Linked DNA regions of Homo sapiens. The protein of the gene in region 2 purifies or fractionates together with the protein of the main gene of each other region. This does not show direct contact. Each region holds a gene or a part of one and is shown on either strand. Other genes may lie near its edges. The genes, in order: GNL2, REXO4, BAZ1B and RBM34.

Region 1 (7,026 bases), on a different chromosome or scaffold from region 2:
AAGTACTTTGTGTTTACTGGAATTGGTATTTCATGATCATTTAAAACCAAAGTAAGAAGTCCTTTTGATGGAAAATATATTCTGTAAATCAAACTTCGCTGTTGCCATTTTTCTGTTGTCAACCAATATCTGTTCTTTCCTCAATTTAGGAACAGTCGTGGTAAAATAATTAAACCCCTGCAATATCAATCAACGGTGGCTTCTGGCACAGTGGCAAGAGTAGAGCCAAATATTAAATGGTTTGGTGAGTATTATCCCCTGTTACTTTGCTCTACAAAATATATGCTGAGTGGAAACGGCTAGGATGTTTAAATGTCTAAACAGCAGGAGTTTTTGGTGAGTGAAACCGGCAAGGATTATCTGAGAAAGGGATAAGAAGAATTACTGGGAAAAGTAGTGGTGGTCAATTTAATAAATAACTTCTTTTTGAAGAGCGCTCACCATTAGTAATTGTAATTGAACCCTCTTAAGCAGATAAGACCATCCTTAATGACTAGCATTCACAGACCTTAGAATGCTCATCTTAATCTTTTCTGCTTTCCTAAAGAGATACTGTTGGAGAGGTGGCCTTGTAGGTTTTGTGCATATATCCTTCAGGGTAAGTGCATTAGCCCGAAGTTCCTCTGAAATACTTCTTAATGGGGTTTTTATTTGAACTTGGGTGACAATTAAAGGGTCTCACTGTTGAACTGTCCAACAGTGAATAGAGTATCTTCAGTCTCAGGGTGATCACAGCTTCTTCCTTGGAAAACTCCCTGTCTCATTTCAGTCTGGGCTCTTAACTTTGCCCTTAGCCACTGGTAAATGTATGGGCACTTTAGATGATCAGACCCCAGTGTTTGCTTGGTGTTTGACCTCTGTCCTTGGGGGCAGGTGGCAGCTATCTTTGAGTCTCTTATACTTTCAGTGGGATACTTCCTAAGAACTGCAACACAGAAAGGTGTCAAAACTCTGCAGAGAAGCATTTAGCATGGCTGCTGGGTACTGTGACTCGATTAGACTGCCTGGGTTTGAATTCTAGTTCTGTCATTTATGTGCCAGTGGGCAAGTTATTAAGTCTGTCTGTTCATCAGTTTTCTCATCCCTAACATGAGAATAAGATGAAACCTATCTCATAAGACTGTCATGGTAATCAAATGAGTAAATACAGGCAGGGCGCAGTGGCTCACGCCTGTAATCCCAGCACTTTGGGAGGCCAAGGCTGGTGAATCACTTGAGGTCAGGCATTCGAGACCAGCCTGGCCAACACAGTGAAACCCCCATCTCTACTAAATATACAAAAATTAGCCAGGTGTTGTGGTGGGCACCTGTAATCCCAGCTACTTGGGAGGCTGGGGCAGGAGAATCCCTTGAGCCCAGGAGGCAGAGGTTGCAGTGAGCTGAGATTGTGCCACTGCACTCCAGCCTGGGTGACAGAGTGAGACTCCATCTCAAAAAAAAAAAAAAAAAAAGAGTAAATATATATAAAGTGCTTAGAATAGCGCCTAGCAAATAGTGAGTATAATATAAGCATTACTTGCTACCGTCATTACCACCTTGCTGTTTTGCATTTATGCCGCAGCATGCTGTTTAATTGAATGCTTTTCAGGGTCTCCCTCACAAGATGTTTTCCAGGTGGTGGTGCAGGGCTCTATCTTGTTCCCTTGCATGGACTCATTGGTTAATAGTCCCTTTGAATCCTCATAACCCTAAAAGTGGCTAACTATGACTCAAATTTCAGTGTTTCAAGATTCTCTGTCTATACTGACTGATCAGCTGTGATTGGCTCCAGGTTTCTCTGCTAGATCTAGCAGGTAGTAGGACATTTGACAGATCTCAGTTCCATTCCACGCTATTTATTTCTCAGTTTCATTTAGTTAGGAAACTGGACTTGGAAAACTATTGAAACCCTTTGTGGGTCTGGATTTGTGGAATAGTTCATAGTGTGCAAGTGCGGGAGAGGCAGTTTTTTGGTTTTTTCCTCTTTTAAGTTTGAAAACAGCTCCAAGGGATGGATGGATCAGGTGCTTGGGTAAGTGAGGGTAATTTAAAATCTTGCCTTTCACCGTGTCAGTGGAAGATGGATGCGCAAATATTAACTAAGTGGCAACATTCTTTATTTGTAAAACAGGAAACACACGTGTGATTAAGCAGTCATCATTACAAAAATTTCAAGAGGAAATGGATACAGTTATGAAGGATCCATACAAAGTTGTCATGAAGCAAAGCAAGTTACCAATGTCTCTTCTCCATGATCGAATCCGGCCTCATGTAAGATGTAGGATATCCCTGGTGATGGAATTTCCTGGGCAAACTCCATGCAGATCCCTCTCTAACATATTTGTCTTTTGTTTTTCCTTAGAAAATAGTGACTTTAATGTAGCAATGATGAACTTTCTAAGACCTCTCTTTTCACCTTTTCATGTTTAGTATGAGGTGCAGTAGTGTAGTGGATCAAAGCACAGGTTTTGGAGTTGAGACCTGAATTTTAATCCTTGCTCTATCCCTTCCTGTGCCCTTAGTTGGGTTTCTCCATGAACTTTAACTTCTTTGCCTTGAAAGTATAGATAGGTCGGACACAGTGGCTCACGCCTGTAATCCCAGCACTTGGGAGGCTCAGGCAGGCGGATCACCTGAGGTCAGGAGTTTGAGACCAACCTGACCAACAAGAAGAAACCCTGTCTCTACTAAAAATACAAAATTAGCCAGGCGTGGTGGTGCATACCTGTAATCTCAGCTACTCAGGAGAGGCTGAGGCAGGAGAATCGCTTGAACCTGGGAGGCAGAGATTGCAGTGAGCCAAGATCGTGCCATTGCACTCCAGCCTGGGCAACAGGAGCGAAACTCCGTCTAAAAAAAACAGAAAGTATAGATAACCGACCTCCTTGGGTTATTGGCTACAGATGAAGCATCTGTAAAGCACTTGGCCCATAGTGAGCACATAGCACACCACCTAATAAGAGCTAAATTGATAACAGCTATTAGTAATATTATTTATTTTGGTAGGCAAACTTGTTTTAAGTGGTAATTCCATCAAACTTTGGGACAGCGTAGAATTAGGATTGAGTTGGTAGAACTTTGGTGTTGCGTACGTTCAGCTTTTGTGAGATCCTTGAGATTTTTTCTCAGCTGAAGGAAGGGGTGCTGGTCACATTGGTTGTCAATTGCTAAAATTTGAAGTGCAGTAAGGATTCAATCTGGGTTGAGTGGAATGAGTTTCACACAGAACAAAGAAAGAATCTGTTGTTTGTCTGCTTATTTTTACTTGCATTGAATAATAAATTCCCAGAAATGTAGCCAGTACGTAAGCTTCAGTTCCAGTATGAGGAGGGGAGAAAAACATTGACATGCATACGTGGGTTAAATAGTTCAGGCTGGGCGCGGTGGCTCACGCCTGAATCCCAGCACTTTGGGAAGCCAAGGCGGGTGGATCACAAGGTCAGGAGATTGAGACCATCCTGGCTAACACGTGAAATCCCGTCTCTACTAAAAATACAAAAAAAAATTAGCCGGGCGTGGTGGCGGGCACCTGTAGTCCCAGCTACTCAGGAGGCTGAGGCAGGAGAATGATATGAACCCGGGAGGCAGAGCTTGCAGTGAGCCGAGATTGCGCCACTGCGTGCCAGCCCAGGCGACAGAGCAAGACTCCGTCTCAAATAAATAAATAAAAATAAAATAGTTCAAAGAAAACTGTTTACTTGCAGAACAAAATAAAAACCAAGGCCTGGTTATTGCCTCAGGTTTTGTCAGTTATGTTTTGTTTTATGATGCACTAGAAGAATGGCACCTATTAGTAGAATGACTGTTTTCTTTCAGGGGAACACATGAGTGTAATTCATGAACCACAGACAAGTTGCTCATTTCCCTTGTTCTCTTTGTCTGTTCTCCCTAAAGCCATCTTTTAAGCAACTATTGAATCCTGTTTATGAGAAGAACAGAGAGGTTCTGTGATGGATTTATTGCTTCGTTGCCTGTACTTGTTGTCAGTGCTTCTAAAATTCAGTGTTTAAATATCTGGTATGTAGAATGAAGGGTCTGCAGTTGCACCAGTCAGCTTCTTTGTTGATGCAGAAAGCTGCTCAGAGTAATTGATGAGTTTTCTGCTTTGGCCTTGAAAAACCTTAACTATTTTATTTTAGTGTAATATCTATTACTTATAAAATCTAATTCTGAGATTATTTTGCACAGTGGAGTTAGATCAGATACGCATATTCATCTATATGTGTTTTAGAACTACTGTATTTCTGTAGCAATACAGTAAGAGTACTGTAACTTTGCATATGTGCTTTATATACTGTATATTACTGTGTTATACTTACTAATGTGTGTTATACTTACTAATGTGTAGGTTTATAGACATAAAGCCTTGGGTACTGTAACTTACAGGTTAAGAGATTTTGAAGGATAATTTTGGTCACACTTGATTTTACCCAGTGACATTAGACCCTATTTCCCATGTAAAATGAGCTGCTTCTGTTTGGAGATGCTCCCGAGTGGAACGTAGTGACTAAAACTAAACTGAGTTGTGGGTTAGGGCATCTGAGAAAATGATAATAGTTTAAGGATCTTTAGAAGTTGGAAGAGGGGATCTGTTAAAGTTCAGAAACCACAGGGGCTGCTGCATCATCCTCACAGCTTTTGGTAGTGGTGCTTACGGAGGAGCTTGTACTAGGGGGAAAAGGGTGATTTTTTTTTTTTTAATTGTCTGCAGGCTGTTAACATTCCGTTATGTGATAGATCCCAACTCTTTTATCTTGCTTCAGAAATTCCTATGCCTGTAACTCCTTTACAGGCACATCAAGTTCTAGTTAGTATCAGGTTCCTTTTATCACATCTAAACTATTATTTTGGACTTTTGCTAGATGTTTTTCATCCGAAGACTTGCCATGTGCATTTAATAAAAACGTTACCTAAATTAGGGAAAATGTTATCTGAAACTAAAATGCATCTTACAAAACAAGCAATTCCTTTTAGCCATGAAAGAAATTAACTTCCAAGAAAAAGTTGGCATTTACAGTTGGTTTAAAAAAAACTCACAAATTTGAGTATGATTGTCCTTGACAAAATCTATGAATTTGGCGAATTTTATGCTCTTGTTTGAAAGCTATAAAAAATGGTGGAAAAGATTAATTTTCACCACTGTAGCCTTAATTACATTTGACTGAAATTTATGATAAATGAAATAAAGCAGAGTTTTTGGCAAGTTTTTGTACAACTATTCATATTTACTTTGATTATTTGTATTACTTTTGTATTTCTCCAAGGAAGCTTACAGAACTTCAGAATAAGGGAACCAGTGTTTGTGCCATTTCAACAAGTAATTCTGATTTGAAACCAGACTGAAACCATGTCTTACAGATTTGGGTATGGGTTGAACCTTGGAAAAATAAAATCAGAAAGTCTTTCCTAGGTGGGTGTTGAGCTTTTTGCTTTTTCTCAGTGCTTTTCTTAGTTTTACCTGTTATTCTCCTTTCTCTTCAGAACTTGAAGGTGCACATTCTTGATACTGAAAGTTTTGAAACTACATTTGGCCCTAAGTCACAGAGGAAACGACCAAACTTATTTGCAAGTGATATGCAGTCTCTTATCGAAAATGCTGAAATGTCCACTGAGAGCTATGACCAGGGCAAGGATCGTGATTTGGTAACTGAAGACACTGGTGTGAGGTACATTTTTTTTTTTGCTTCTTTGTTTTTGTTTTTTTTTTTTTGAGATGGAGTCTTGCTTTGTCGCCCAGGCTGGAATGCAGTGGTGCGATCTTGGCCCACTGCAACCTCCGCTTCCCAGGTTCAAGCAATTCTCCTGCCTCAGCCTTTTGAGTAGCTGGGACTACAGGTGGATGCCTCCATGCCTGGCTAATTTTTTGTATTTTAGTAGAGACAAGGTTTCACCGTGTTGCCCAGGCTAGTCTTGAACTCGTGAGCTCAGGCAATCCACACTCCTTGGCCTCCCAAAATGCTAGGATTACAGGTGTGAGCCACTGCACCCGGTCGAGGTACAGTTTTGAAGTTCATGCAAATCTCATCATTTGCTCTTCTGCAACAAAACATTTTCTTTCAACTTATTTTGCCTGTGTGAAGCTCAGTGCTTTAACTCATATATGGAGTTATCTTCTTCCCTCAGACTGGAGACGTTGGTGAAATTGGGGCTAGACTGAAGATGTCTAAGGTGGCTTGATTGACAAAGGTCTCTCCTCATCCCCAAAATAAATAACATTTTTTCATTTATAATAGTAATACACCAGTCATAGACAAATTAGGAAATATAGTTAAGTTGGAAAATACAACAAAAAGAACATAACTCATGATCCCATTGCTGATATTAAGCATTGTTAATGCCTCTGTGAATATCGGGGCTTCCTTAACTGGAGGTCTCTGAGTTAATGGATGGCCTGTAAGGTTTCTTTGACTCTTTGAAGAAAATGTGGAAAATTTGTGAGCTTACATAAAGGCAGTAGGGTTTTGTGTTTTTTGTTTTTGTTTTGGGGAGGAGGAGGAGGAGAGGAAGTATCTATAATTTTAATCATATTCTCGTAGGGATCCATACTCAAAAGGAGAATCAGTCACCGGCTGGCTGCAGTGGCTTACCTGTAATACTAGTTTTTTGGGAGGCTGAGGCAGGAAGATCGCTTGAGCACAGGAGTTTGAGACCAGCCTGGGCAACATAGTGAGACCTTGTCTCTACAAAAAATAAAAAATTGGCTGGGCATAGAGTCCCAGCTACTCAGAAGGCTGAGGTGGGAGGATCACTGGAGCCCAGGAATTTGAGGCTGCAGTAAGCTGTGATTATTAGGAATATATTTCTATGTCAGTACATAATCAACAATAATATAATATTTATTGTCAGAGTAGTATTTTGTTTGTTATGGCCAGTCTCATTGTTGGACATTTATACTGTGTATAGTTTTTCCTTATGGTGAACAACACAAGGATGAAGCATCAATGTGACCGCATCTTTTTCATCCTTAATTATTCCCCAAAGATAAGTTCTTACGGAGCAAAGCATGATATCAAAAGGTATGCATGCTTTTTGATAGGCAGCTGCCAC
Region 2 (7,026 bases):
GGCTGCTGAAACAAAAATCTCAGGCCCCAGAAAAGCCTCTTGTCATCTCTCAGATGGGTTCCAAAAAGAAGCCCAAAATTATCCAGCAAAACAAAAAAGAGACCTCGCCTCAAGTGAAGGGAGAGGAGATGCCGGCAGGAAAAGACCAGGAGGCCAGCAGGGGCTCTGTTCCTTCAGGTTCCAAGATGGACAGGAGGGCGCCAGTACCTCGCACCAAGGCCAGTGGAACAGAGCACAATAAGAAAGGAACCAAGGAAAGGACAAATGGTGATATTGTTCCAGAACGAGGGGACATCGAGCATAAGAAGCGGAAAGCTAAGGAGGCAGCCCCAGCCCCACCCACCGAGTAAGTATGGGCCACCTCACCACTGAGAACCGAGGCACAGCGACTTCACCAAGGCCTGTCTCCTTATGGAGGCTGGTGGCCTCACCGCAGTCTCTCCATCACTTTACCCTGATGTCGTCTGTTCCTTTGTTTACTCGCTGTTACTTGTTTTCCCCTAGAGTGTGCGCATGATAAGGCAGGGCCTGCTTCTTCCGAGCGTTGAGCAGAGCTCAGCATTTAGTGGGTGCCAGTACACGTGTGTGGAAGGAAAGCGTGCTGAAGCCAGAAAGACCCAAGTATGAGGCCTGTCCCTGCTTCTCGCCAGTTGGGTGGTTTGGGGCAAGTTTCTGACGTCCTCTGTGCCTTGTGGTAGTCATGGTGGCATCATAAGGAGATTGTGAGGTTGGCACTCTTGGCTCAGTGCCTGGTGATTACTTCAACCCTGTGATGGAGCCAGGTGTGGTGGCTGTTGCCTGTGATCCCAGCTCCTTGGGAGGCCAAGGTGGGAGGATCACTTGATCCCAGGAGGTTGAGGCTGCAGTGAGCTGTGATTGCACTACTGCCTCCAGCCTGGGTGACGGAGCAAGACTCTCAAAAAAACAAGTGAAAAGAATAAACCCTGTGCTGGCCACCCACGTGGGGTGGACCGGGAGTCAGTGGCCTTCTCTGAATGGTTCAGCTGGAGGTGACGTGTTCATAAGTTACAGCTGGCTTCATGTTGCCTGGGTGTTCAGGACACAGTCGCTGATGGCTGAGGAATGAGCCATTTGGGGGCCTCCCTGTGTTGTGCTAGGCAGGCTGTCTGGGATAGAGTTCAGTGAGGTGGGCCTGCTCCTCCCTCTTGAGGCTTATTGTCAAGTGCAGTAGACAGACTGTAAACTGCAGCTGTTGATTAAGTGTGGTCAGGATAAATCTAGTGAGGAGAAGGTATTGGGCGCCTGGAACAAGAGGGACGTGTCCATTCAGTGGGGCCAGGAATGGCTTTTCTAAGGAAATGACATTTAACCTTAGCCCAAGAGACAGATTCCCCAGGCAGGTGTTACGTGCCTGTGTGAGCTTCCTAGTACGGAGGGCAAGGGGTTCTGTGTTTCCATCTTACAGGCATTCTGTCTGTCTGTTTCCTAAGTGTTCAATAATGAACGTGTTACCTTCATAATTAAAATGTTAGCACTCATTACACTTGGGTGGTGGGTTATGTGTTTCTGTTTTATATTCTTTGTGTTTGTCTGTGTTCCTAAATCTTGAATAATGAGTGTATTTTCTAATTAAAAAGAAAAGAGATGAGGCCAGGTGCTGTGACTCACACCTGTAATCCCAGCTCTTTGGGAGGCCGAGGCAGGTGGATCACTTGAGGTCAGGAGTTCAAGACCAGCCTGGCCAACATGACGAAACCCCGTATCTACTGAAAATACAAAAAATTAGCCAGGCGTGGCAGTGGGCGCCTGTAAAATCCCAGCTACTAGGGAGGCTGAGACAAGAGAATCACTTGAACCTGGGAGGCAAAGGTTGCAGTGAGCCAAGATCATGCCACTGCACTCCAGGTTGGGTGACCCAGTGAGACTCCATCTCAAAAAAAAAAGGAAAATGCCAAGATGATCAAAATAGCAGAAGCAGCAGGGCCAGCAGTCGGGGTGTCTGGGGCCAGCCTGTGGGAGAGGCAGGCTGTGCCATCGCTCCACTCACCTGCACAGTCAGCCCCACAGCCCCACCCCACCAGTTGCACTAGGGTCTTCTGGTGATCAGCCTGTTATCTTTGCCTTTTAGGGAAGACATCTGGTTTGACGACGTGGACCCAGCGGATATCGAAGCTGCCATAGGTCCAGAGGCGGCCAAGATAGCGAGGAAACAGTTGGGTCAGAGCGAGGGCAGCGTCAGCCTCAGCCTCGTGAAAGAGCAGGCCTTCGGCGGGTACGCTGGTCTCAGGGAGTGGGGTCTGCTGGGGATGCTTAGCCGTGGAGGGCGGGGCTTCTTCAAGGAAGAGGATGCTTTCCTCTCCCTGAGGTGAATGAGGCAAGCACCTCCCAGGGTCCTGCTAAGAACCAGGACCACACAGAGCTTGTCACGTGGGTGCAAATGAGTGAGGGGCAGAGAGCTTTTCTCTGCTGACACTTAGTCCATGGATCCCTGGGGCTCTGACCTGGAGCCCTGTGGCCTGCCGTGTTTATTAAACTACAGCCTTTGGTTACCCTTCAGCCTGACAAGAGCCTTAGCCTTGGACTGTGAGATGGTGGGCGTGGGCCCTAAGGGGGAGGAGAGCATGGCCGCCCGTGTGTCCATCGTGAACCAGTATGGGAAGTGCGTTTATGACAAGTACGTCAAACCAACCGAGCCCGTGACGGACTATAGGACAGCGGTCAGTGGGATTCGGCCTGAGAACCTCAAGCAGGGTATGTCATCCACAGCTCAGGAACTTAGAAGGGAAAGTAGTAACTGGATTCGTTTTCTCCCTTTTGTTCCCTTTTCTGTCTGAGACCACTCACTGCAGCTGGTTTTGATGCGTCTTGTCTCCTTTTGGGGCGATGGGTTTTAAAATACAAAAGGCATCCTTAGACGGCTTTACACCCATTTATGCCTTGCACTTCATTGCCTCCTGTCCGCTGACTTCAAGACCAGGCCAGTAGCTGGGCACGGTGGCTCATGCCTGTAGTCCCAGCTACTCAGGAGGCTGAGGAGGGAGGATTGCTTGAACCCAGGAGTTCAAGTCCAGCCTGGACAACATAGCGAGACCTCATTTCTAAAAAAAATTATTATTTTTTTTTGAGATGGAGTTTTGCTCTTGTTGCCCAGGCTGAAGTGCAATGGCACAATCTGGGCTCACTGCAACCTCCGCCTCCTGGGTTCAAGCGATTCTCCTGCCTCAGCCTCCCGAGTAGCTGGGATTACAGGCATATGCCACCACACCCGACTAATTTTGTATTTTAAGTAGAGACAGGGTTTCTCCACATTGGTCAGGCTGGTCTTGAACTCCCGAACTCAGGTGATCCGCCTGCCTCCGCCTCCCAAAGTGCTGGAATTACAGGCATGACCCACTGCACCTGGCCTTCTAAAAAATATTTTTAAAAAATTAGCTGGTCCCACTTGGCTCGGGCCACCCTTGGTCTAATCACCCCTGTTCGGGGGGTACAAGTGGGGTTGGTGGTGGGGTGGTCCCCAGAAGCAGGCAAGGCTGCCTCTGGAGCCCAGGGCCTAGGGCAACACATCTCTACCCATTTTTGTGGGGGCAGTTTTGTTTTTATTTCCATTTGGGAAATTGTCAAGTAAATCATGAGGTTGAATAGGCAGAACCACGCTGCCAGGCGGCTCTAAAAGTTTCTCAGTGCCTACACTCAACATATGCTCTCCTCCAGCCATGAGCCGACTTTGCAGACTGTGTGGAGCACTTTATTCCTCTCCTCAGAGGTGGTTCTCGCAGCCACCCCTGCCAGGGGCCCACAAGGCACTTCTCCCAGGGGGGTGGGTGGATGTGGTGGCTTCGAGTCACCCTCCGTAGTGGCATTGCAGGCCTGACCATTTGTCTTAGGTCTGACCAGGGGTAGGAGCGGGGCTGCCTCCTCACAGAATGATGGTGATGTGTGTGTTGCAAAAAACCGCTTCTTTGTGTTGATTTTCCAGGAGAAGAGCTTGAAGTTGTTCAGAAGGAAGTGGCAGAGATGCTGAAGGGCAGAATTCTAGTGGGGCACGCTCTGCATAATGACCTAAAGGTACTGGGCTCTCTCCTGGGGACTCAGCCTGCCCCTGCTCCGTGGGTGTTACACTCACGCCCTTGCTGTGTTGGGGAGTTTTAACAATGTGTGGGTTTGTGCTCTATGTTGGGAATACTTTGGTAATAATATCAGATACCGCGTGCTGAGTTCTTACTGTGTTTTAGGAGCCATGCCAGGCTCTTGTTTTGAGAGCCCCCAGCGAAACTGGGGTACCCATACCAGAGCAGCTGGCAACCCCGCCCTAATGAGAAATGAAGGTGCTGATACCCCTTTTACCTGGAGGAAGGCCTAATGTCCAGTTGTCCCATCCGTGACCAGGGTCCCTCCACAGGAAACAAGTTTATCCTGGCAGATGCCCTGTGGCCCATGTTCAGGTTACGCTTGCCTAACCATCACCCTGGCCCTGGGAGCTTGCCTTTGCCTTCTTTCTGGCGTCCCGAGGAAAATCCCGCCTGGGGCAGCCCCTGGTTCTTCAGATGGAAAGTGCAAATTCAGACACCACCACCGTGGGAAACAAGTTCAAAGACATATACAGACCCTGGGCAGGGAAGGCGTCATGGGTGGGGAGGGCAGCCTGCCATCTCCTGGTCACCCGAGGCAGGAATGAAGAGTCAGGCAGAGCGAGTACGTGTGTATTTACAGGAGAACAGGGTGGGGGTCACTTTGAGTTTATGGGCAAATGCCTGGATGTTGGTTTAAAGGACACAGTGGGAACAGCGGGGAGGCCAGTCTGCTAGATGGGAGAGACACTTAAGTTGTCACCTCTGCCCACCGGCTTGAAGCACTTGGGTGTGGTGAGGAACTTGAAGCCGTTCAGAAGGAAGTGACAGAGATGCTAATGTTCAGGCAGCAGCCTTTGCTATGGTGCTCCCGTGACGGCACTGTAGAGATCCCTTGAATCCATTGAAGATGCTGGAGGTGTTCATGCTTGTTTACAGAGGGTGAAACTGAGGTGAGAACCCCCCGGGCAGTGTCCTCACAGAAAGGTCTTCTGTGTGCTCCTGCTGTACCCCCTCAGAGACTGCTGCCGTGGGGACTCGTCCTTCCCTCCTGACTCTGACTCCATCCCTGGCACCTTGCGCAGCACATGTTCAAGTCTTTCTTGAAGATGATGCTAAGGACCAGACACAGTGGCTTATGCCTGTAATCGCAGCTTTTTGGGAGGCTGAGGCTGGAGGATTGCTTGAGGCCGGGAGTTAGAGACCAGCCTGAGTAACATAGGGGAGACCCCATCTCTATAAAAAATTTTAAAATTAGCCAGGTGTGGTGGCGTGTGCCTGTTGTCCCAGCTACTCAGGAGACTGGGGTAGGAGGATCAGTTGAGCCCAGGAGGTTAAGGCTGCAGTGAGCCATGATTACCCTATAGCACTGCAGCCCAGGTGACAGAGTGAGATCCTATCAAAAAACAAAACAAAACAAAAAATTGCATGCTAAGATTGCAAGATGAGCTGTTAAAATGTGTTATTTGCAACTTCCTGATGTGTAGAACCAACTCAAAATACAAGTATAATATAGGAATAAGTTGGTTGCTGGTTAACTGTTGACTGTTTTTCTCCTACTTCCTTGATTTCAAGATTTTGTTTTTATTGTCTCTGACTGTTGGGCATCAGCTTAAGTCAGTGCAATAAATTTCCTTCTGGAGTTGAAATTCATATCAGTGCCTTGTTTCCATGTGTGTGTGACACACTTGGATTCCCTACAAGATGTTACTTGCAGGGCAGCCGCGTTGGCTCACACCTGTAATCCCAGCACTTTGGGAGGCCGAGGCGGGTGGATCACCTGAGGTCAGGAGTTCGAGACCAGCCTGGCCAACATGGCAAAACCCTGTCTCTACTAAAAAATACAAAAATTAGCCAGGCATGGTGGCGGGCACTTGTAATCCCAGCTACTCGGGAGGCTGAGGCAGGAGAATCACTTGAAACCTGGGGTCGGAGGTTGCAGTCAGCAAAGATTGAGCCACTGCATTCCAGCCTGGGTGACAGAGCAAGACTCCGTCACACACACACACACACACACACACACACACACACACACACACACACACACAAAGATGTTACTTGCAAAAGGTGGCGGGGGGAGGGGGTTCTGCTACTACAAACCAAAAATGAAAATGATTATCATTATATTTTATTTTTCTAGGTACTATTTCTTGATCATCCAAAAAAGAAGATTCGGGACACACAGAAATATAAACCTTTCAAGAGTCAAGTAAAGGTACTTAGAATGAGTGTGACTCAAGATACTGTATTTCTGTTTTGCTGGTCACTTCATTGTTTCTGGTCACTGGTGGCTGACTTGTTGGTTAAAGGGTTTTTGTTTTTTCTTTTAACCTTTAAAACTAGAAGGAATGTTTAAAAATAGAGTTCTGCTAATTGCTGACCTTAAAAATGATTGCAACGGAGGGCAAGTTATTTCCACTCTAACCTCTGAAACAGGGTCACTGACTAAGGGCCTGGTACCACTGTCGTATCTGCTCTAGAGGGTGCCAAGGGCAGAGCCGTTCTTCATCCTTTTTTTTTTTTTTAGACAGGGTCTTGCTCTGTCACCCAGGCTGGAGTGCAATGGCATAATCTTGGCTCACTGTAACTGCCACCTCCCAGGCTCAGGCAATCCTTCCACCTTAGCCTCTGAAGTAGCTGGGACTGCAGGCATATGCCACCACCCCTGGCTAATTTTTTTATTTTTATTTTTTTAGAGATAGGGTCTTGCTGTGTTGCCCTGGCTATTCTCAAACTCCTGGGTTCAAGTGATCTGCCCTCGTTGGCCTCCTAAGTGCTGAGATTACAGGTGTGAACCACCATGCCTGGCCAGAGCTGTCCCTCTTGAAATAAGCAGGGAGGCCTCAAGATGGGAGATGGGGATGCTGACTCCTCCCCTGGCCCTCTCCTTTTATTGGCTGATAGGGGTGTATCACCAGCCCATCATGCTATAAATGGCAGCTGGTGGCTACCACCCTAAGTGCCATGAGCACCTCTCCACTGAGAGGCAAACTGTAGG
Region 3 (7,026 bases), on a different chromosome or scaffold from region 2:
GTATTCCCAGTTCTCAACTTATATTTACAATTATGTTTTTAATGGGACTTGATATTTTAATTTTCTTTTAATACCTACCTTTTGATTGCATGTATCACAGAACTTTGTGTGATATTTTACTGACTTAAAGCTGTATGTTGGTATGTTCTTGGAGTATATTGTGAATCTTCATTAAACTTAGTGGAAGTTGTGAGTAATGCACACATTTAATGACTAGGTGTTAAATATTGGTGATTATGTTGATTGTACTGTAGCTTTGTATGGTACATTACTTCCTAAGGTATTCCCACAGGCAGGACACTAGATCTTGGAAAACACTAACTTTATCAGAATCAGTTCTTGATGTGACACTGACTGTATTTAAGTCAAGATAGGTTTTAGGCAGGAATTGGAGCTACAAGCAGCGTGTTGTAGATGAGTATTTTTGTTGTGTTACTTCAACTGTCATAGTTTCTAAAGCTTAGAAATAACTAGTTCACGACCTTTGTAGCATCATTATGTGAGAATTTATTGAGGGTATGATAATGAGGGGCTTATTCATACTGTTAATCTGGCTCTACACAAGTGTGACTAGAGCATGTTTTTGTTTTGTTTTAAGAGATGGAATCTTGCTGTGTTGCCCAGGCTGGAGTGCAGCAGCTGTTCACAGACGAGGTGGTAGCACAGGGAAGCCTTGAACCGGACTCAAGAGATCCTCCTGCCTCAGCCTCCAGAGTAGCTGGGACTACAGGCACGCACTACTGCGTCTGCCTTAGAGCATGTGTTAAGAGTTGAGTAGCTATAGATGGAGTTAAGTTGTAGTTGTAAGATAGAGTTTTACTGGACATTTGGAATACTGAGCTCTTACGTTGATTTTTATTTTTATTTTTATTTTTATTTATTTATTTATTTATTTTTTGAGACGGAGTCTCGCTCTGTCGCCCAGGCTGGAGTGCAGTGGCGCGATCTAGGCTCACTGCAAGCTCCGCCTCCCGGGTTCACGCCATTTTCCTGCCTCAGCCTCCTGAGTAGCTGGGACTACAGGCGCCCGCCACCACGCCTGGCTAATTTTTTTTTTTTTTTTTGGTATTTTTAGTAGAGATGGGGTTTCATTGTGTTAGCCAGGATTGTCTTGATCTCCTGACCTTATGATCCGCCCGCCTCGGCCTCCCATAGTTCTGGGATTACAGACGTGAGCCACTGCGCCCAGCCTGATTTTTATACATTCTTTAAAGTAATACGTTATGCCATATTAGACTTGTTTTTAACTTAAAGACAGTCTGGAGTCTTTAAGAGAAAAAATCGAGTAAGAGAGAATATCGAGTAAAAAGCAAATCTTGAGTTGGCTCACTCTTTGCCATCTTCTGACTTAGAGCACTTAGGTTAGTTACAGTTATGCTTGTTTGACTCTATACTTATCTGGGCCACATCTTTTCAGGATATCAAGTACTTAATTGAAAGAAACAATCCCTGCAAGACTGAAGAGAACAAAGCAGCAGCATATTGTGATAAGGAGGTAGCTGATGGCAAAGTAGATACATAATGAGATAGTCTAGGATTCGAAAATATCTTATCTTTTATAGCTTACACAACCTTTGGAGAATTGCTTTGACATTTTGTCTGCAATTATATGTGCAGCAGTTGCTGGAACATAAAAACCTCAATTGGCATTTGCTCTGAGAGGTTATTTGAGAGTGAGTGACTTATTTTGGTAACCTAAAATCTGAAATAGGATTTAGAGGCAGCTGACTCAATATCCTTCTGATGGGCCTTTTTGCCTTTTCATTTTCATTTTTTTTCTTGCTTTCCCTTTTTTTCTTATTCATTTATTTATTGAGACAGGGTCTCACTCTGTTGCCCAGGCTGGAGTGCAGTGATGTGTGATCATGGCTTACTGCAGCCTCCAACTTCCCAGGCTCAAGTGATTCTTCCCACTCAGCCTGCTGAGTAGCTATAACCATAGGTGCACACCACCACGCCTAATTTTTGTATGTTTTGTAGAGACGAGACGAGGTCTTGCAAAGTTGCCCCGGCTGGTCTTGGATTTCTAGCCTCAAGTGATCCTCCCGCTTCAGCCTCCCAAAGTGCTGGAATTACAGGTATGAGCCACTGTGTGTGGCCTTACTTTCTCTCTTTTTTTTTTGTTTTTGAGCTGGGTTATTGCTGTGTCGCCCAGACTGGAGTGCAGTGGTGCGATCTTGGTTCACTACAACCTCCGCCTCCTGGGTTCAAGCAATTCTCCTGCCTCAGACTCCCAAGCAACTGGGATTACAGGCACCCACCACCACGCCTGGCTAATTTTTTGTATTTTTAGTAGAGATGGGGTTTTACCACGTTGGCCAGGCTGGTCTCGAACTCCTGACCTCAAGTTGATCCACCGGCCTCAGCCTCCCAAAGTGCTGGGATTACAGGCGTGAGCCACCATGCCCAGCCTTGCTTTCTCTTAATATAATTACCAGAACAGTTACCAGAACAGTTACACAAACTTAAAATAGCCGTTGTTAGGGGTTGTAGGAAATTCTTTTACAGTTGTTTTTTTTTTTTTTTTTTTTTTTTTTTGAGACAGTCACAGTCTGTCGCCCAGGCTGGAGTGCAATGGTGCAATCTTGGCTCACTGCAACCTCCGCCTCCCAACTTCGAGCAATTCTCCTGCCTCAGCCTCCCAAGTAGCTGGGATTACAGGCGCCTGCCACCATGCCTGGCTATTTTTTGTATTTTTAGTAGTTTCACCATGTTGGCTAGGCTGGTCTCGAATTCCTGACCTCAGTGATCCACCCCCTCGGCCTCCCACAGTGCTGGGATTACAGACGTGAGCCACCGCGCCTGGCCCCAGATTTTATAATCAGTTTGACTAGGCAATTAATTTTAAGTTAATACTGTCAGAGGACATTTTCTGAGATGTATACTTCAGGTTTCAGTGCTGTCCAACAAAAGTATAATGTAAGCCATATGTAATTTAAAATTTTGTAGTACTCTCATATTAAAAAAAGAAAAAAATGGTGGGAAAAAAGAAAACAGCTGGATGTGGTGGTGTGCGCCTGTAGTCCCAGCTACTCAGGAGGCCAAAGCTGGAGGATTCCTTAAACCCAGAAGCTTGAGACCAGACAAGGCAATGTAGTGAGACCACCATCTCCAAAAACATAAATAAATAATAAAAAAGAAAACCACATTTTTCTCTTTGCTTTTGAGTGGAGTCTCGCTCTGTAGCCCAGGCTGGAGTACAGTGGTGCCATCTCGGCTCACTGCAACCTCCACCTCCTGGGTTCAAGTGATTCTCCTGCCTCAGCCTCCCGAGTAGCTGGGACTACAGGCACGTGCACCACACCTGGCTCCTTTTTTGCACTTTTTAAGTAGAGACGGGGTTTCACCGTGTTGGCCAGGCTAGTCTCGAACACCTGGCCTCAAGTGATCCGTTCCCCTCTGCCTCCCAAAGTGCTGGGATTACAGGCGTGAGCCACCACACCCTTCCACATTTTTCTCATTTTAAGACCAAGGCTGACACCTGGTATGGTTGTTCATGCCAGCACTTTGGGAGGCTGAGGCAGGTGAATTGCTTGAGCCCAGGAATTTGAGGTCAGCCTGGACAACAGTGAATGAAACCCTGTCTCTACAAAAAAAATAGAAAAATTAGCTGGACATGCTGGCGTTTGCCTGTGGTCCCAATTACTTGGGAGGCTGAGGTGGGAGGATCACTTGAGTCCAGGAGGCAAAGGTTGCAGTGAAGCGAGATGGTGCTATTGCACTCCAGCTTGGGTGACAGAGCAAGACCCTGCTTCAAAAAAAAAAAAAAAAAAAAAAAAGGAACAAGGCTGGAGGGGCAGACCCTGTGTGTGACATGTCTTGCTTGCTAGTTTGCTAGTGGCACAAAGAAAGAGCTAGAAGACATCATGACTTTAAGCCTCTTCCGGGAAGTGACATATATTACATCTGCTCACATCTATTGGTCGAAACCAGTCACGGGGTCAAGCTTGATGTTAATGAAGAGGGGAGGTACATTCCTCTTCAGGGACCTTGTAGACAAGCCACATGGCAGTGGGTGGAGATGTAAAAATCCTCTTATGGAAAGGAGGTGAATAGTTAGAAACTAATACAATCTATCATATTTGAAGGTTCAATGAATGTTTTCTGGGAAAAGTTATTTTTGAGATCTAAAGGATGATTAGAATTTAGACGAATAATAGAGGACTGTATATTCTTGGCAGAGAAGGTGTGATGAGTTCGTCGTGATTGTGTGAGTTTGGAGGTTTTTTGTTTTTTTTTGAGACAGATTCTCACTCTGTCATCCAGGGTGGAGTACAGCGGTGTGATCTTGGCTCACTGCAACCTCCGCCTTCCTCATTCAAGCAGTTCTCTGCCTCAGCCTCCCGAGTAGCTGGGATTACAGGCGCCCGCCACCATGCGTGGCTAGTTTTTTAGTAGAGACAGGGTTTCACCATCTTGGCCAGGCTGGTCTTGAACTCCTAACCTCGTGATCCACCCACTTCAGCCTCCCAAAGTGCTGGGATTACAGGCGTGACCCACCATGCCCGGGCTAATCTTCTTTTTTTAGACAGTCTCCCTCTGTTGCTCTCCATCACAGCTCACTGCAACCTCCACCTCCTGGGCTCAAGTGATCCTCCCACCTCAGATCCCTGAGTAGCTGGAACTACAGGCCTGTGCCACCACATTCAACTAATTTTTTTTTAATAGAGATGGGGTTTTGCTATGTTGCCCAGGCTGCTCTTGAACTCCTGGGCTTGAGCGATGTTCGTGCCTGGGCCTCATAAACTGCCACTATGCAGTTTTTTTTTTTTTTTTTGAGACTGAGTTTCACTCTTGTTGCCCAGGCTACAGTGCAATGGCATGATCTCAGCTCACTGCGACCTCCGTCTCCAAGGTTCAAGCAGTTCTCCTGCATCAGCCTCCCGAGTAGCTGGGATTACAGCCGCACGCCACCACGCCTGGCTAATTTTTTGTATTTTTAGTAGAGACGGGGGTTTCACCATGTTGGCCACGCTGGTCTCGAACTCCTGACCTCAGGTGATCCACCTGCCTTGGCCTCCCAAAATGCCAGGATTATAGGCATGAGCCACTGTGCCTGGCCGGCCCCTACTTTTTTTTGTTTTGTTTTTTTCTGGCCCCTGCTTTTTAAAGTAACAACTCTAGGTTGAACATCCCAAATCCATAAATCAGAAATGCTCCAAAATCTGAAAGTTTTTGAGCCCCAACATGATCGTCAAAGGAAGAGCTCATTGGAGCATTTTGGATATTTGGATTTGGGATGCTGAACTAGTAAGTATAATGCAAATACTCCAAAATCTGAAAGAAATTCAAAATCCAAAATACTCCCGGTTCTAAGCATTTTGGATAAGGGATCCTCAACCTGTAATAATAAAAACTTACTGTTCTCTCTTTAAGACATATTTGTTAATGTATTTCTCTTACATTCTCTCTGATGACACAGTGAGTTTTTTTTTTTCTTTTAATAGTTTTTTGTAAAGTCGCTATGTTCAGGCTGGTTTTGAACCCCTGGGCTCAAGATCCCCCCACTTTGTCCTCCCAAATGCTGGGATTGCATGTGTAAGCTACCATGCCTGTTGGAGCTTCTTAAATATGGCTAAATAATGTGTTAGAATGTTATCAAGCTTTTTGAAAGCTTAAATAAGTCCACTTACTGATTCCTCCTCTGTCCTTATTTTACTACCCATCCCTTCCACTCCCCTAGTTCAGTAGACAAAAATAAGACAAATCCGTCTTGGGATAATGTCCTCTGGAAGCCGTTCCGTTGCTCTTCTCTGGGTATAAGTTTGAAAATTTTTCGGTGATTGGATTTACATATCTGTATATGGAAGTCTGACTCAGGTTTTTACTCAAACATTCTATATATTTTGTTTAATCACTTAGATATTAGCACCACCCCTGTAAGGAAAATGGATTTATTACTCAGTTTTAGCAGATCTGGGGAAAGATCCACAATGAGCAAAGGTGCTTATACTATTGCATAAAGTTACTATTTTGGATTACCTGTGGGTTTGTTCTTGTTTGCGTTTTTGCTGATCATAACCTTGGAAAACCAAGCATCTATATTTATTAAACATGCGGCTGGGCGTGGTGGCTCACACCTGTAATCCCATAACTTTGGGAGATTGAGGCAGGAGGACTGTTTGAGCCCAGGAGTTCAAGACCAACCTGGGCAATGTGGTGAGACCCTGACTCTGCAAAGATAAAAAATGTAGGTGGGCATGGTGGTGTGCACCTGTAGTCCTAGCTACTCAGGAGGCTGAGGCCCAGGATTGCTTGACCCCAGGAGGTCAAGGCTACAGTGAGCCATGATCCCACCACTGCACTTCAGCCTGGGTGACAGAGTGAGACCCTGTGTCAAAAATAAATACATAAATAGATAAAAATGAGCTAGATGCTGCAGTGTAAGTCTGTAATCCCAGCTATTCAGGAGGCTAAGGTAGGAGGATCTCTTGAGCTCAGGAGATACAGGCCAGCCTTGTTTCCAAAAAACAAAAATTAGAATATTTGTTTATTTGTTAGATAGTATTGTAGAGGAAACTGTTTAAATACTTTTATTTCAACCACTATAAAATGTGTCACTTGGAATATACAGGTATTGTTCACTAACTTTCTACTTATGTCAGTTGATTTTCTTACATAGCATCTGTTGCTGTGCTTAAAAGTAAATTAGTTACTTGCCGTTTGAATTTGGAAGTGGCTGGCTGATGGTGAATTCCAGTTGGTTTTGTGTGGAAAGTTGCCATATTTACACTACCAACTTGATGTTTTTCTTTCCCTCGTCTCCCTCACGAAGACTGTCTAAACGGCTAGTAAATGATCTTCTGAATCTCAGTATTATTGGAGACATCATAGAGACTGGATAAATATTATATCAAAAGTACTTTCCGGAATACTTCTAAGTATTTTATGAAATTTATTTTTTAAACCAGGGTAGCCAATCTTTTGGCCATATTGGAAGAAGAATTGTCTCGGGCCACACATAAAATACACTAACACTAAAAACAGTTGATCAGCTAAAAAAAAAAAAAATCACACAAAAAACTC
Region 4 (7,026 bases), on a different chromosome or scaffold from region 2:
GTAGAGTCATCATACAGGATATACTCTTGTCTAATTTGCTCAGCATAATGATTTTGAGGTTTGTTTTTTTGTGGGGGAGGGTTGGTGGAGGGGAACAGTGTCTTCTGCTGTTGCCCAGGCTGGAGTTCAGTGGCACGATAATGGCTCACGGCAGCCTTATCACCTGGGCTCAAGCAGTCCTTCTGCCTCAGCCTCCTAAATACCTGGGACTACAGGTGCTCGCCACCACACCCGGCTGATTTTTAAGTTTTTAGTAGAGCCAAGGTGTCACTAATGCCCAGACTGGTCCTGAACTCCTGAGCTCAAGTAGCCCTCCTGCCTTTGCCTCCCAAAGTGTTGCAATTACAGGCTTGAGCCACCGTGCCTGTCTGAGATTTGTTCTTATTATTGCAATGCATTGGTAATTAATTCGTTTTTATTGCTCAGTAGTATTCCCTTGTATGACAGTATTTGTTTATCCATTCACCTGTTTATTGTGTTGTGTTGTATTTATTGTGATGTATTGTACTGTATTGTACTGTATTGTATTGTGATGGAGTCTTGCTCTGTCGCTCAGGCTGGAGTGCAGTGGTACCATCTCGGCTAATTGCAACCTCTACCTCCCGGGTTCAAGTGATTTTCATGCCTCAGCCTCCCAAGCAGCTGGGATTACAGACACATACCACCATGCCCAGCTAATTTTTTCATACTTTTAGTAGAGATGGGGCTTTGCCATGTTGGCCAGGCTGGTCTAAAACTCCTGACCTCAGGTGATCCGCCCGCCTCAGACTGCCAAAGTGCTGGGATTATAGGCGTGAGCCATCGCACCCGGCCCCATTCACCAGTTTATGAACATTCAGGTTATTTCAGCCTTTGGCTATTATACATAAAACTGCTAAAAAAAATTTGGGTACGGATCATTTCTTTTGAGAAACTGCCTGGTCGGATTGCCAGATCTTACGGTATATTGTAACTTTCTAAGAAGCTGCAAAATTGTTTTCCAAAGTGTTTGTACCATTTTACATTCCTACCAGCTATCGATGAGAATGTCAGTTGCTTCACATCCTCACCAGCACTTGGCATTGTCATTTAATTTTAGACATTCTGAAGGTTTGTCAACCACAGTGACTAAAAATGTTAGGCATCTTATGTGCTTACTATTTGTATCTATTCTTTGGTGAAATGTTGGTACAAAAATTTTGCCCATTTTTTAGTGACTTTTAAATTATTTTTATATGGTTGTAAGGAGTTATTTATATATTCTAGATATAACACCTTTTCCTGCTATGTGTGTTTCAGATATTTTGCTCCAGTTTGTGGCTGGCTTTTTTAGAGGTGTCTTTTTTTTTTTTTTTTTTTTTGAGATGGATCCTTGCTCTGTCACCAGGCTGGAGTGCAGTGGTGCGATCCCAGCTCACTGCAACCTCCGCCTCCCGGGTTCAACTGATTCTCCTGCCTCAGCCTCTCAGGTAGCTGGGATTACAAGCGTGCGCCACCACACTCGGGTCATTTTTGTATTTTTAGTAGAGACGGGGTTTCACCATGTTGGCCAGGCTGGTTTCGAACTCCTGACCTCAGATGATCCACCCACCTCTGCCTCCCAAAGTGCTAGGGTTACAAGCATGAGCCACCACACACGCCCAGAGGTGTCTCTTAAAGATTGAAAGTTTTAAGTTTTATTGAAGATCTCATTTAGAGAGTGCTGTTGTTGGCCAGGCACAGTGGCTCACGCCTATAATCCATTACTTTGGGAGGTCAAGGTGGGCGGATCACCTGAGGTCAGGATTTTAAGACCAGCCTGGCCAACGTGGTGAAACCCCGTCTCTACTAAAAATACAAAAATTAGCCAGGAGTGGTGGCGTGCGCCTGTAATCCCAGCTATTCTGGAGGCTGAAGCAGGAGAATCACTTGAACATGGGAGTTAGAGGTTGCAGTGAGCCGAGATCATGCCATTGCACTCCAGCCTGGACTGCAAGAGAGAAACTCCGTCTCAAAATAAAAAAAGTGCTATTGCTTGTCAGTTGGCTTGGTAGTCTGGTGGGAGTGGGCGCAGCAGGGTCTCTGCTGTCTTGTCTTAGTGTTTCCGTGTCTCAGGAGTGCACCTGATCAGGGCTTTTTTCCCGGGGCAGCCAAGCTGTGCCAAATGCCTTGTACCTTTAGTGGGGATTATGCAGAGGATGTTTCCCACCTCTCCCCCGGTAGCTGGACTCCTCCCTTCCTCCGGCTGTAGGGGTCTTCTCTGTGCCCTGGAGTGACAGGGTTTGCTATCCCTCCCCTAGCAGCTTAGCCTTCTCCTCCATCAAGAGAATGTGTCCGGAATTGGTGGGTTCTTGGTCTCACTGACTTCAAGAATGAAGCCGCGGACCCTCGCGGTGAGTGTTACAGCTCTTAAGGTGGTGCGTCGGGAGTCTGTTCCTTCTGATGTTCGGATTTGTTCGGAGTTTCTTCCTTCTGGTGGGTTCGTGGTCTCACTGGCTCAGGAGTAAAGCTGCAGACCTTCGCAGTGAGTGTTACAGCTCTTAAGGCAGCGCGTCTGGAGTTGTTCGTTCCTCCCGGTGGCCTCGTGGTCTCGCTGGCTTCAGGAGTGAAGCTGCAGATCTTTGCGGTGAGTGTTACAGCTCATAAAAGCAGCGTGGACCCAAAGAGTGAGCAGTAGCAAGATTTATTGCAAAGAGTGAAAGGACAAAGCTTCCACAGTGTGGAAGGGGACCCGAGTGGCTTGCCACTGCTGGCTAGGGCAGCCTGCTTTTATTCTCTTATCTGGCCCCACCCACATCCTGCTGATTGGTAGAGCCGAGTGGTCTGTTTTGACAGGGTGCTGATTGGTGCATTTACAATCCCTGAGCTAGATACAAAGGTTCTCCATGTCCCCATCAGATTAGTTAGATACAGAGTATCGACACAAAGGTTCTCCAAGGCCCCACCAGAGCAGCTAGATACAGAGTATCGATTGGTGCACTCACAAACCCTGAGCTAAACACAGGGTGCTGATTGGTGTGTTTATAAACCTTGAGCTAGATACAGAGTGCCGATTGGTGTATTTACAACCCCTGAGCTAGACATAAAGGTTGTCCAAGGCCCCACCAGAGCAGCTAGATACAGAGTGTCGATTGGTGCACTCACAAACCTTGAGCTAAACACAGGGTGCCGATTGGTGTGTTTACAAACCTTGAGCTAGATACAGAGTGCCGATTGGTGTATTTACAATCCCTGAGCTAGACATAAAGGTTGTCCAAGGCCCCACCAGAGCAGCTAGATACTGAGTGTCGATTGGTGCACTCACAAACCTTGAGCTAAACACAGGGTGCCGATTGGTGTGTTTACAAACCTTGAGCTAGATACAGAGTGCTGATTGGTGTATTTACAATCCCTGAGCTAGACATAAAAGTTCTCCAAGGTCCCACCAGAGTAGCTAGATATAGAGTGTCGATTGGTGCATTCACAGACCCTGAGCTAGACACAGGGTGCTGATTGGTGTATTTACAATCCCTGAGCTAGACATAAAGGTTGTCCACATCCCCACCAGACTCGGGAGCCCAGCTGGCTTCACCCAGTGGATCCTGCACCGGGGCTGCAGGTGGAGCTGCCTGCCAATCCCATGCCGTGCGCCTGCACTCCCCAGCCCTTTGGTGGTCGATGGGACTGGGCGTCGTGGAGCAGGGGGTGGCGCTCCTCGGGGAGGCTCGGGCCGCACAGGAGCCCATGGAGGGGGTGGGAGGCTCAGGCATAGCGGGCTGCAGGTCCCGAACCCTGCCCTGCGGGAAGGCAGCTAAGGCCCGGTGAGAAATCGAGCGTAGCGCCAGTGGGTTGGCACTGCTGGGGGACCCAGTACATCCTCCGCAGCCACTGGCCCGGGTGCTAAGCCCCTCACTGCCCGGGGCCGGCAGGGCCTGCAGGGCCGGCCGGCTGCTCCGAGTGCGGGGCCCGCCAAGCCCACGCCCACCTGGAACTCCAGCTGGCCCGCAAGCGCCGCGCAGCCCTGGTTCCCACTCGCGCCTCTCCCTCCACACCTCCCTGCAAGCTGAGGGAGCCGGCTCCGGCCTTGGCCAGCCCAGAAACGGGCTCCCACAGCGCAGCGGTGGGCTGAAGGGCTCCTCAAGTGCCGTCAAAGTGGGAGCCCAGGCAGAGGAGGTGCGGAGAGCAAGCGAGGGCTCTGAGGACTGCCAGCACGCTGTCACCTCTCAAGAAGAATCCAGGTGGGGCTTTGTGCCTTTCCCACACTTTGGCCATTCCGTCCTCCAGGCCTGCAGCACCCATAGCTGCGATCTCAGCCTTTCCCAGGGAGTGGAGGTCAGTGGGGCAGATCCTGAGGATGGGCGCACACTCCTGCCTCGGCAGCTTCCAGGACTTCTGTTTCAGGCCCAGCCCACGCTGAGCTCTAGTGTTTTAGTGAGATCATGGCTGGAATCTTTCCTGCTTGTCTGGTGCCCAGCATTTTGCCCCTGTGCTCGGCCATCGTAGAGCCAGAAGAGCCAGTGCTTCCTCTGTCTCTCATTGGAGGAAGCAGGCCTGTCCTTAGCTTCTAGCTGCTGGCTTTCCCCAAGACTTCAGCTCTGTGATGGCTGCAACAAAAGTTATGATGCTGTGGGTTATCTGGTTTCTTCTTAACTGGTAAGAGCAGGAGTGATGCACTTTCTGGCTTTTTACATTCTAGGTGGAAGCGGAACTCCAGCATTTGTTCCTGGGGGTGCACTAGGATGTGTTGGATTTGGATGTTGTCGGCAGCTGTGTGTTGTGTGAAGAGCAGGGCTCTAGAGTCAGCTAGACTTGGTTTCAGTCCTAGGCCAGCCACTTGTTGCCATTTCATCGCAGTCACGTACCTCTTCCAGTCTCAGCTTCCTTATTCATAAAATCAGAAAAAAAACACCGTGTTGGAGATGTGAGATTAAATGAAATACATAAAATGTCTAGCTGAGTGTCTGGTATATATTAGGCATTCAGTAAATCACAGCTGGTTTAATCAATACAAAAGCATTAGTATAGTGTATTATTACAGAATGCCATCAGTCATGTCAGGCACTATTTTCCAGTTCCCTTCTTGATGATACTCATTTGTGTAGTAGCATTTTTCTTACTTCAAAACAGTAGGTTGATGTCTTCAGGGAAAGATCTGTGTTCATTACTAGGTCCTTTTTGCTAACTCCTCACATCCAAATTATATCACCATTTTGCAAACCTAGTGACTTAATGAGTTTAGGCATTTAGTAGCAGCAGCTGCAGTCATTGACAAAAGGGTAAAAACCAGTCATAACATGACTCCCTGGAAAGAACACAACACCCACCAGCAGTCGCGACAAAGGGGTCATGTCTGAGTCTGATCCATCCTTTTGATGCAGCTGCCAGTTTACAAGAAATATAGAGGACAAAGGTTTGTGTTAAACTACTTGATGAGCTTGCAGTCACAAAATCCAGGCTGTGGGGAATTCTGCAGGCCAAATAGTGAGAGATAAAGAGATACAGAGAAAACTCTGTAAATTAAACAAGATTCAAAAGACATATCAGGTCAAAAGTATAGACAAGACCAAAGTATGATGTCTAAGAATAGACACTTGGTTGATAAAACCACAAAGATGTGCAGGGAAGTAGTTCCTATAAAAATGGGAATGGTGGTTGCCTTTGGAGGGAAGGAGGGGCTGCAACGGGAAAGGGCCACAGAGAGGCTTCTGAGTGGGCTACAAGGCACGTTGAGCTGTTGTTAATTCACTCAGCTATACGTAGTTTGTGCACTCTTCTATATGGGTGTTTCACAGTAAAGAGGAAAACTCACGTCTTTCACAACTGTTTATATGTGTGTTAGATACGGACTGCAGCTAAGATGTCAGTTTTTAGTTCTTGTATGGTTCTCAGGGATTCATATACATGGTTCATCTGTTTTCTCATGGTTATGATTCCTAAGAAAGTATGGGTTGTGTCTCCACTAATATCTTTATAAGTTGTGTGTTATTTTTTGAGTTATTACTAAATATTTATTCAAAGAGATGAAATGTCCACCCAGGAATTCTTGTCATGTGTGTTAAGAGTTGAAAACAGCTAGATTTTTTTCTAGTGACTTTGAGGCTAAGAAATTTACCTTGTCTCTCTTTTCTTTCTTTCTTTTTTTTTTTTTGGTGTAGACGTAAAATTCATCCTGATCAGAAAAATATTAATGCCTATGTTGTGTTTAAGGAGGAGAGTGCTGCCACGCAAGCATTGAAAAGGTAATTTTATCCCTTAGGTTTGAACAGAATAATTGTCCTATAAGTATGTATGAGTACTTTTTTTATTCTTTGGTTTCACTTTAGCATAGATGTTTTAGTAATCGAGTGCTCATTTTTAACAACCATTTTCCCTTTGTATTTATAATACAGAAATGGGGCCCAGATTGCAGATGGATTTCGTATTAGAGTTGATCTCGCATCTGAGACCTCATCTGTAAGTAGTACTTGATTTGTTTAAAGAACGAGAGCTTTGTAGAGAGAAATGTTTCCTTCCAGGCTTTTCCTGGAAGGGGACTGGAATCAGCAATGTGAGGGAAGCGCAGAAGGAAACAGCCTATGTCCTCTGTGGTTACAGAGTTGATGGCAAGAGAGGCACAAGGACCGAGGTCAACATTCCCTTCAAAAACGTAGTCCTGGCTGGGCACAATGGCTCATGCCTGTAATCCTAACATTTTGGGAGGCCAAGGCGGGAGGATCACTTGAGCCCAGGAGTTAAGAGCAGCCTGAGCAATGTAGCAAGACCCTGCCTTTACAAAAAAAAAAAAAAAAATTAGTCAAGTGTGTGATGCATGCCGACAGTCCCAGCTACTCAGAAGGCTGAGGTGGGAGCACCACCTGAGCCCAGGAGTTTGAGGCTGCAGTGAGCTGTAGTCGTGCCACTGCATTCTAGCCTGGGCAACAGAGGGCGACCCTGTTTCTTAAAAAGAAACAAAAACATAGTCCTCTTCAAATAAGCATAATTAGGTCAGAAGGTACATTAGACATCATCTGGTCTAACACATTATAGACCGAGGTCTAGAAAGTTCAATTATTCATTAGACAGTTTTTAGTACACACTCTGTCAGAGATG

What was found.
Region 1: the proteins of REXO4 (region 2) and GNL2 purify together in Homo sapiens (affinity purification with mass spectrometry; 2 studies listed by BioGRID and IntAct, with this or other methods). This does not show direct contact.
Region 3: the proteins of REXO4 (region 2) and BAZ1B purify together in Homo sapiens (affinity purification with mass spectrometry; 2 studies listed by BioGRID and IntAct, with this or other methods). This does not show direct contact.
Region 4: the proteins of REXO4 (region 2) and RBM34 purify together in Homo sapiens (co-immunoprecipitation; 3 studies listed by BioGRID and IntAct, with this or other methods). This does not show direct contact.

The regions. Positions count from the first base shown.
Region 1 is NC_000001.11:37,585,930-37,592,955, reverse strand, and holds part of GNL2 (nucleolar GTP-binding protein 2), read left to right. Parts: intron 1-149; coding exon 150-244; intron 245-2,110; coding exon 2,111-2,250; intron 2,251-3,703; exon of another isoform or gene 3,704-3,996; intron 3,997-5,460; coding exon 5,461-5,645; intron 5,646-7,026. UniProt on the Homo sapiens protein: GTPase that associates with pre-60S ribosomal subunits in the nucleolus and is required for their nuclear export and maturation.
Region 2 is NC_000009.12:133,407,985-133,415,010, reverse strand, and holds part of REXO4 (RNA exonuclease 4), read left to right. Parts: coding exon 1-346; intron 347-366; exon of another isoform or gene 367-674; intron 675-2,089; coding exon 2,090-2,233; intron 2,234-2,518; coding exon 2,519-2,712; intron 2,713-3,937; coding exon 3,938-4,026; intron 4,027-6,168; coding exon 6,169-6,243; intron 6,244-7,026.
Region 3 is NC_000007.14:73,512,285-73,519,310, reverse strand, and holds part of BAZ1B (tyrosine-protein kinase BAZ1B), read left to right. Parts: intron 1-7,026. UniProt on the Homo sapiens protein: Atypical tyrosine-protein kinase that plays a central role in chromatin remodeling and acts as a transcription regulator. Involved in DNA damage response by phosphorylating 'Tyr-142' of histone H2AX (H2AXY142ph).
Region 4 is NC_000001.11:235,137,241-235,144,266, reverse strand, and holds part of RBM34 (RNA-binding protein 34), read left to right. Parts: intron 1-6,092; coding exon 6,093-6,176; intron 6,177-6,326; coding exon 6,327-6,390; intron 6,391-7,026.